2 separate regions of the Homo sapiens genome follow, and region 2 is linked to region 1. Evidence: fine-mapped expression QTL. A gene starts in region 1. The other region holds a variant in brackets. All regions are shown on one strand. Distances are between the middles of the regions.

Region 1 (2,900 bases):
AACATATGCGTTCATTTAATTAGCAAGTGTATATAAAAACATCATAGACAAAGCAAAAGTCTCTCTTGACACTCTCCATCTTGACCTGTTCACCGCCCCAGACCAGGTGAGGAAATTTGAAGCTATGCTATCTGCAAGTCACTGGCGCAGTCGGAATAAAAGTTGGTCGTGGTGGGGGCGGGGGGGGGGTGGTCATCTGGGTCGGGACTGAGTCGAGGCAGGTGGGACTGAGTGGTAGGGACCTGGGGGGACATCTGGGTCGGGTCTGAGTCCAGACAGGCCACCTGCCTTGGGCCTCTAACATTTCCGCGCAGCGCTGGGCTTTGAGGCTTTCCAGAGCGCTGCCGGGGCGGGGGCGGGGTGAGGTGAGGGGCTCACCCTGGCTCTCCCACCCCTGCCTACGGGCTGTGAGGTCACTCGATTCATTTCTGGAACTAACTTGTAATTCTCAAACAAGTGCTATTAATTCTCTTCCAACTAGGAACGGCCTCAGTAACGCGCCGCTGAGTCAGTTTTCAGGGCGGGCGGTTTCCCCAAGTCCACTCCTGAGGCCCCTCAAGAGCACCCACCGCGTCCAGCTTCCCAGGGCGCTCCTTCCCAGGAGACCTTCTTTTCGCCACTGTTTTCTCCCCTCTTCCCACTTCTCCGAGGGCTGCCCCGCGGTCTGTCCGGCCGTGTCCCAGGCCTTGGCGCGGCTGAGGCATGACCGGAATGCGCGGGAGGACGCGGGGCACGGAGGGGACCTGAGGCACGGAGGGAACCCGGGGCGGGCCGGACTGGCCTGGGCCCTCGTCGGGGCGGTGCTCGACCCGGCCCGCGCCCCCCGCCCCGACACTCGCAGCCCCGCCTCCGGACCCCGGGTAGTTGCCATCCCCTCGCGGGCCGGGTGGGGCGCGCAGCTCCTAGCCCTGGGAGGTCCCGAGGATCGCGAAACGGAAAGAGAAAAAAGTCTGCGCCGAGCGCCTGGCAAGCAGGGCCCGCCCCGCCTCCCTTCCCGGCTGGTCCAGTCACCGACCTGCGGCTCCGGGGCCGCGAGGGAGGAGGCGCGGGGGGCGCGAGGCGGGGGCGAGCGCTTGGGACTCGGCCCGGCTCCCGGCTCCGGGGGTTCTCGTGGCCGCGGCAGCGCGGTCTCTGCGGAGGCGGCGGGGGCGCGGCCAGCCGGACCTCTTCCTTTCCAGAGCGGCCCGCGGCGCCCGTTCCGCGGGAGGCGGGCGGGAGGCGGACGCGGCCTAACCTCGACGTCGACTACCGCGCCGCCCGCGATGGGAAGCGCCTTATAAAGCCGCGCCCGGCCGGCCCGAGCCACTCGCCGCCGCGCCGCCCCGCTGCCCCGAACGCGGGCCATACGCAGCCTCCTTGGAGTGACGGGCCGACCCCGGACGACCCCGGCCACGGACAGACCCGGGACGACCCCGGCCGGGGCGCGCCTCCTGCGGGCGGGCGGGCGGCGGGGCTGGGGAGCCCTTGGCGGGGGCATGCGTGCGACATGGCCTCGGCGGTGTTTGAGGGCACGTCGCTCGTGAACATGTTCGTGCGCGGCTGCTGGGTGAACGGCATCCGCAGGCTCATCGTCAGCCGGCGCGGCGACGAAGAGGAGTTCTTCGAGATCCGCACGGAGTGGTCGGACCGCAGCGTGCTCTACCTGCACCGCAGCCTGGCGGACCTGGGCCGCCTGTGGCAGCGCCTGCGCGACGCCTTTCCCGAGGACCGGTCCGAACTGGCGCAGGGGCCGCTGCGGCAAGGTGCGGGGCCGGGGACGCGGGAGGGGCGCGGGGCCGAGGCAGCCTTGAAGTGCACGAAGGAGGCGGGGAAGAGACTTCAACCGAGATTGCGACTTCTCCTTTCTGCCCGCCCTGGACAGGGGACACTTGGACCCCGCGCCCGCAGACGAGGGGTGCCCGGGCGGCGGGGTTAGGGGGACGGGGAGCCAGCCTGCCCAGCCTGGGGGCGCCCCCGGCGGAGGAGCCAAATGGGGCGGGAAAGGGGCCGAGGCCGGCAGGGCGGGCGCCGGACTCTCCCTGAGGACGAGTCACTTCCGAGGAGGGCGGGGGCGCCCGGGGCTGAGCGGCTCACAGGGTCGGCCCGGCCCTAGCCCCCTGCCCGGTACCTCCCGAGGGCCGGCGGGCGGGCGCACTGGGAAAGCGTCTGGGAGCAGTTAACTGCAGGGTCCGAGCCGGGGGTCGCGTCGGGTCTGGCCGCCGCCCCGAGTTCTCCCCGCGGAGGGCGCGCCCCTGGTCTTCGAGCGCGAGGTGCCACGCAGCCCTTCCGTCCCTCCTCGGAGCGGCCGCCCCGCCCGCGGCTGCCGCGGACAGCCAGGGCCCCCCCGCACCCCCGCCAGGGCTGGTCCCCATTCGCGTTTGATCAGCTGCGCCGCCTCCTCCCCGGCCTCGTGACCGTCCTGGCTCGCGGGAATTCTTGTTTTCAGAAACCGCGGTGGCTTCCCTTTTCCTACCGCTCTGCCCGATCTTTCTTTTGGAGGCCAGGCTGAGGGGGTGGAAGCCGGGAGGACGCAAGAGAGAGGGACTGGAATTGAGACGGGAAGAATTGCGGGGTGGAGGGGGCAGGCCGAGGAGAGGGGCCGCCTGGGAGGGCCGGGAGGGGAGAAGGGGCGGGAAGACTGGAGGACTTCCGAGCAGGTCCCACCCCCCTCCATGGGTGACCACCTGTAGCTCGGAACATTGGGACAGTGGCCCAGCAGCCTTCTTTTCTGCAGTCCTCCTCTAAGCAGAGACCTCCTGAAAGCTTGGGGCCAAGTTACTGAAGCAGAAGGTGGCCCGTCCAAGTCTCCCCAGCCTCCTATCTGGCTGCGTTCTTGAGATAACCTGTGCTTTCCCCTGGCGATGGCCCCAACCCCAGTGTGAGAATTACGTGGATAATTAGCTTAGTTCTCATGACACATC
Region 2 (2,900 bases), 130 kb before region 1:
TTGACTTCCTTAATTGTCTGATTAACAACAACGAAAAATCTTCCCAAGTACTTAAGTAATAATTCCTGTAAATATAACAAAATCTAGACATATAATAAATTTTAAATTCTCTTAAAATATCAACATAAAATTATAGTCTACATCAACTTTTTAGCTCCACAGTTTAAGTTAGAATTACAAGTTTGACTGACACTCCAGCACACAAAATCCTCTTAAATGTAACAAATAAGGAAAAGGCCAAATATCCACAGATTACCTCCTAACCCCAAGATATCAGAAATAGATTTGATTCATCTTCATCATTTCTACACTTAATGCTGTCTCTTTTCAGGATTACAAGTCATTTTCCCACTAAAAAAAAAAGATTCCGAATAAATTTGGAGTTGAATTTTCAAGTGAATTTTTGGGGCCTCCTTACCAGCTGGCCGAGGTTGCATCATGAGCAGGGATGTTAGCTTGGGTGCAGGAGTTAGAAGTAGAGAGGTCAGGATGATTTTTGTTGATTTTGTACTTGCTAAGTCACTGTCTTGCAAAGGTCAGCTCCTAGTCCTGGCCCCTACATTCGGTCATATGTCACCTGCTTCTGTACACTTAGACATGCCTGCAACCTTGCCAGGTCTCTGTAGCACATGGCTGGATTTAACAACATCGTTTCTGGTCTAATTCTATTCTAAATTCTTTTCATATTCTGCACATTTGCTGCAGCTGTAACTTCCAGCCACTGCTCAAAGATGAAGATGGGGCTTAAAGCTAGACAGTGGAGTGAGGCTAGCCAAGGTCAGAACTGCAGAGATGGCAGGTGTGTATGTGCTGGGTGAGGCCAGCTTGTTGAATGTTGCCATGGCCCGTCCTCCTCATTCGCCTCTGGGAAACACAGGAGGAAACTGCACAAACAGAACCTGTGTGCATCTGAGCAGCTGCATCCTCAGAAAGATCTGGCTAAGGCAGTGACATCATGAAACTGGAATTTCTTTCACTCTGGAGGAAGTGAAAAGAGCTGCAAATGGATCTTTAGGGACTGGTTATTATTCCCTGTTTTAATGGACATTTCTTTCATCTTAAAGTGCATTAAAAAATTGACGTGGCAATATAAATACCACCTTCCCCTCCACCTTTTTTTTTTTAAGCAAGATGTCTCTTGAATTTGTATTTGTTTTGCTACTTAAAACCAAATCTTTAAGGAAAGCCAATGCAAATGCAAGCTCTTCAGTGCTTATGGTCACTCAGTGGACTCCTTAGTTCCCAGCAAGCTCTAGCTGCCCAACTGAACTTCTCTTTGTGGGTTTTCAGAGGGCTGGGGAATGGAAATGGGTTGGTGTGGTTCTCCAGTTTGCTCGTTCTTTGCCGTATGGCAGGCTTTTCACACACAGATGGGCTGCTGAATGTTCTATCATTGCAGACTTGCCTCCAGACCCAGGTATATTTCAAGAGCAGAAACCATTGGCACAATCACCCCTTATTCTGTTTGTGGAAGAAAGTTGCCATCCACACAGAAAATTATAGTTTTGGCCGGGCGTGGTGCCTCACAGCTGTAATTCCAGCACTTTGGGAAGCTGAGGCGGGTGGATCATGAGGTCAGGAGTTTGAGACCAGCCTGGCCAACATGGTGATACCCTGTCTCTGCTAAAGATATAAAAAATTAGCCAGGCGTGGTGGCATGTGTGTGTGATCCCAGCTACTCGGGAGGCTGAGGCAGGAGAATCACTTGAAGCCGGGAGGCGGAGGTTGCAGTGAGCCGAGATCACACCATTGCACTCCAGCCTGGGCAACAGAGCAAGACTCTGTCTCAAAAAAACAACAGAACAAAACAAAAATTATAGTTTCTA[T/C]ACATGTGGGTTTGGAATTTGAACAAGTTATTTTATTCTGGGAATGCTTTATCATCGCCTAAAATGACGACTTCTTTCCTAGTTGTGATTTCTCTTTGCCACGTTACCAGGAGGCACAGAAGGCACAGGGAGGAAAGTTCTGGGTTTTCCTCTTGCGAAACTGAGAAGCCACATTAGGGATGAGGCAGTCATCTGAGCCAGCATCTTGTCTGGAAATAATTATGGCTTGCTCACAAAGCTGTGGAAATCTGCAATGCAGAGAAATACAACATCCTTGCAAACCCAAATAAAGGGCAGCAAATCCTTTTGGACACAGCTGTGCCTAAGACTCCCGGAGTGAAAGGAGCAAAATTGTACCTATGACCCACTGTGTCTATTGGAAACCCTAGAATCAATGTCATGTTCATCACCCTGTTAAATGGCAACAGATTTATGAGGAGAGAAGCTTCCAGAAAGACTGCAGAATTATCTTTTTTGGTGCAGTTTGGGACTTTAATTCTCAAAGGATTAAAACCTGTCCAGGTTCTTCTGGTGTGTTCCTTCCGTCTATACAAGGAGCATGTGATTCTTTAAAAATGTTGACTTTGCAGATCCCAATAGTTAGGTGGGAAATTGAGACACCAGAGAGGCATGAGGTTCCTCATTTAGTCTGGACTCAGTTCCTTTCCTAAATTAAAGGAAATGTACCATGCTGCTGACTTTGTGAGTTTGCTTTCAGTGCATGCTATGTGTGAGGTTGGAGAGAGTATGGGATCAAGCAGTGTTGGGAACAGGCCCCCCCGCAAAATCTGGCCATAAACTGGCCCCGAAATTGGCCATAAACAAAATCTCTGCAGCACTGTGATATGCTCGTGATGGCCATGACGCACATGCTGGAAGGTTGTGGGTTTACCGGAATGGGGGCAAGGAACACCTGGCCCATCCAGGGCAGAAAACCGCTTAAAGGCGTTTTTAAACCACAAACAATAGCATGAGTGATCTGTGCCTTAAGGACATGCTCCTGCTGCAGATTACTAGCCAGAACCCATCCCTTTATTTCGGCCCATCCCTTGTTTCCCATAAGGAATACTTTTA

Evidence for each region. PIP is the estimated chance that this variant, and not a neighbour inherited with it, causes the effect.
Region 2: its variant is fine-mapped to the expression of PXDC1 in tibial nerve (GTEx, PIP 0.99).

Annotation. Positions count from the first base shown.
Region 1 is chr6:3,750,118-3,753,017 of GRCh38, reverse strand. It overlaps PXDC1 (PX domain containing 1), which reads left to right and starts at 1,305. Exons shown (of 5, transcript NM_183373.4): 1 at 1,305-1,742. The coding sequence starts at 1,487. RefSeq lists silencers at 792-961, 1,012-1,251, 2,002-2,081.
Region 2 is chr6:3,882,172-3,885,071 of GRCh38, reverse strand. No RefSeq gene overlaps it. Among named protein-coding and RNA genes, the nearest start is that of TGILR, 28 kb to the left of the region's middle. The variant T/C (reference allele first, on the strand shown) is at 1,827.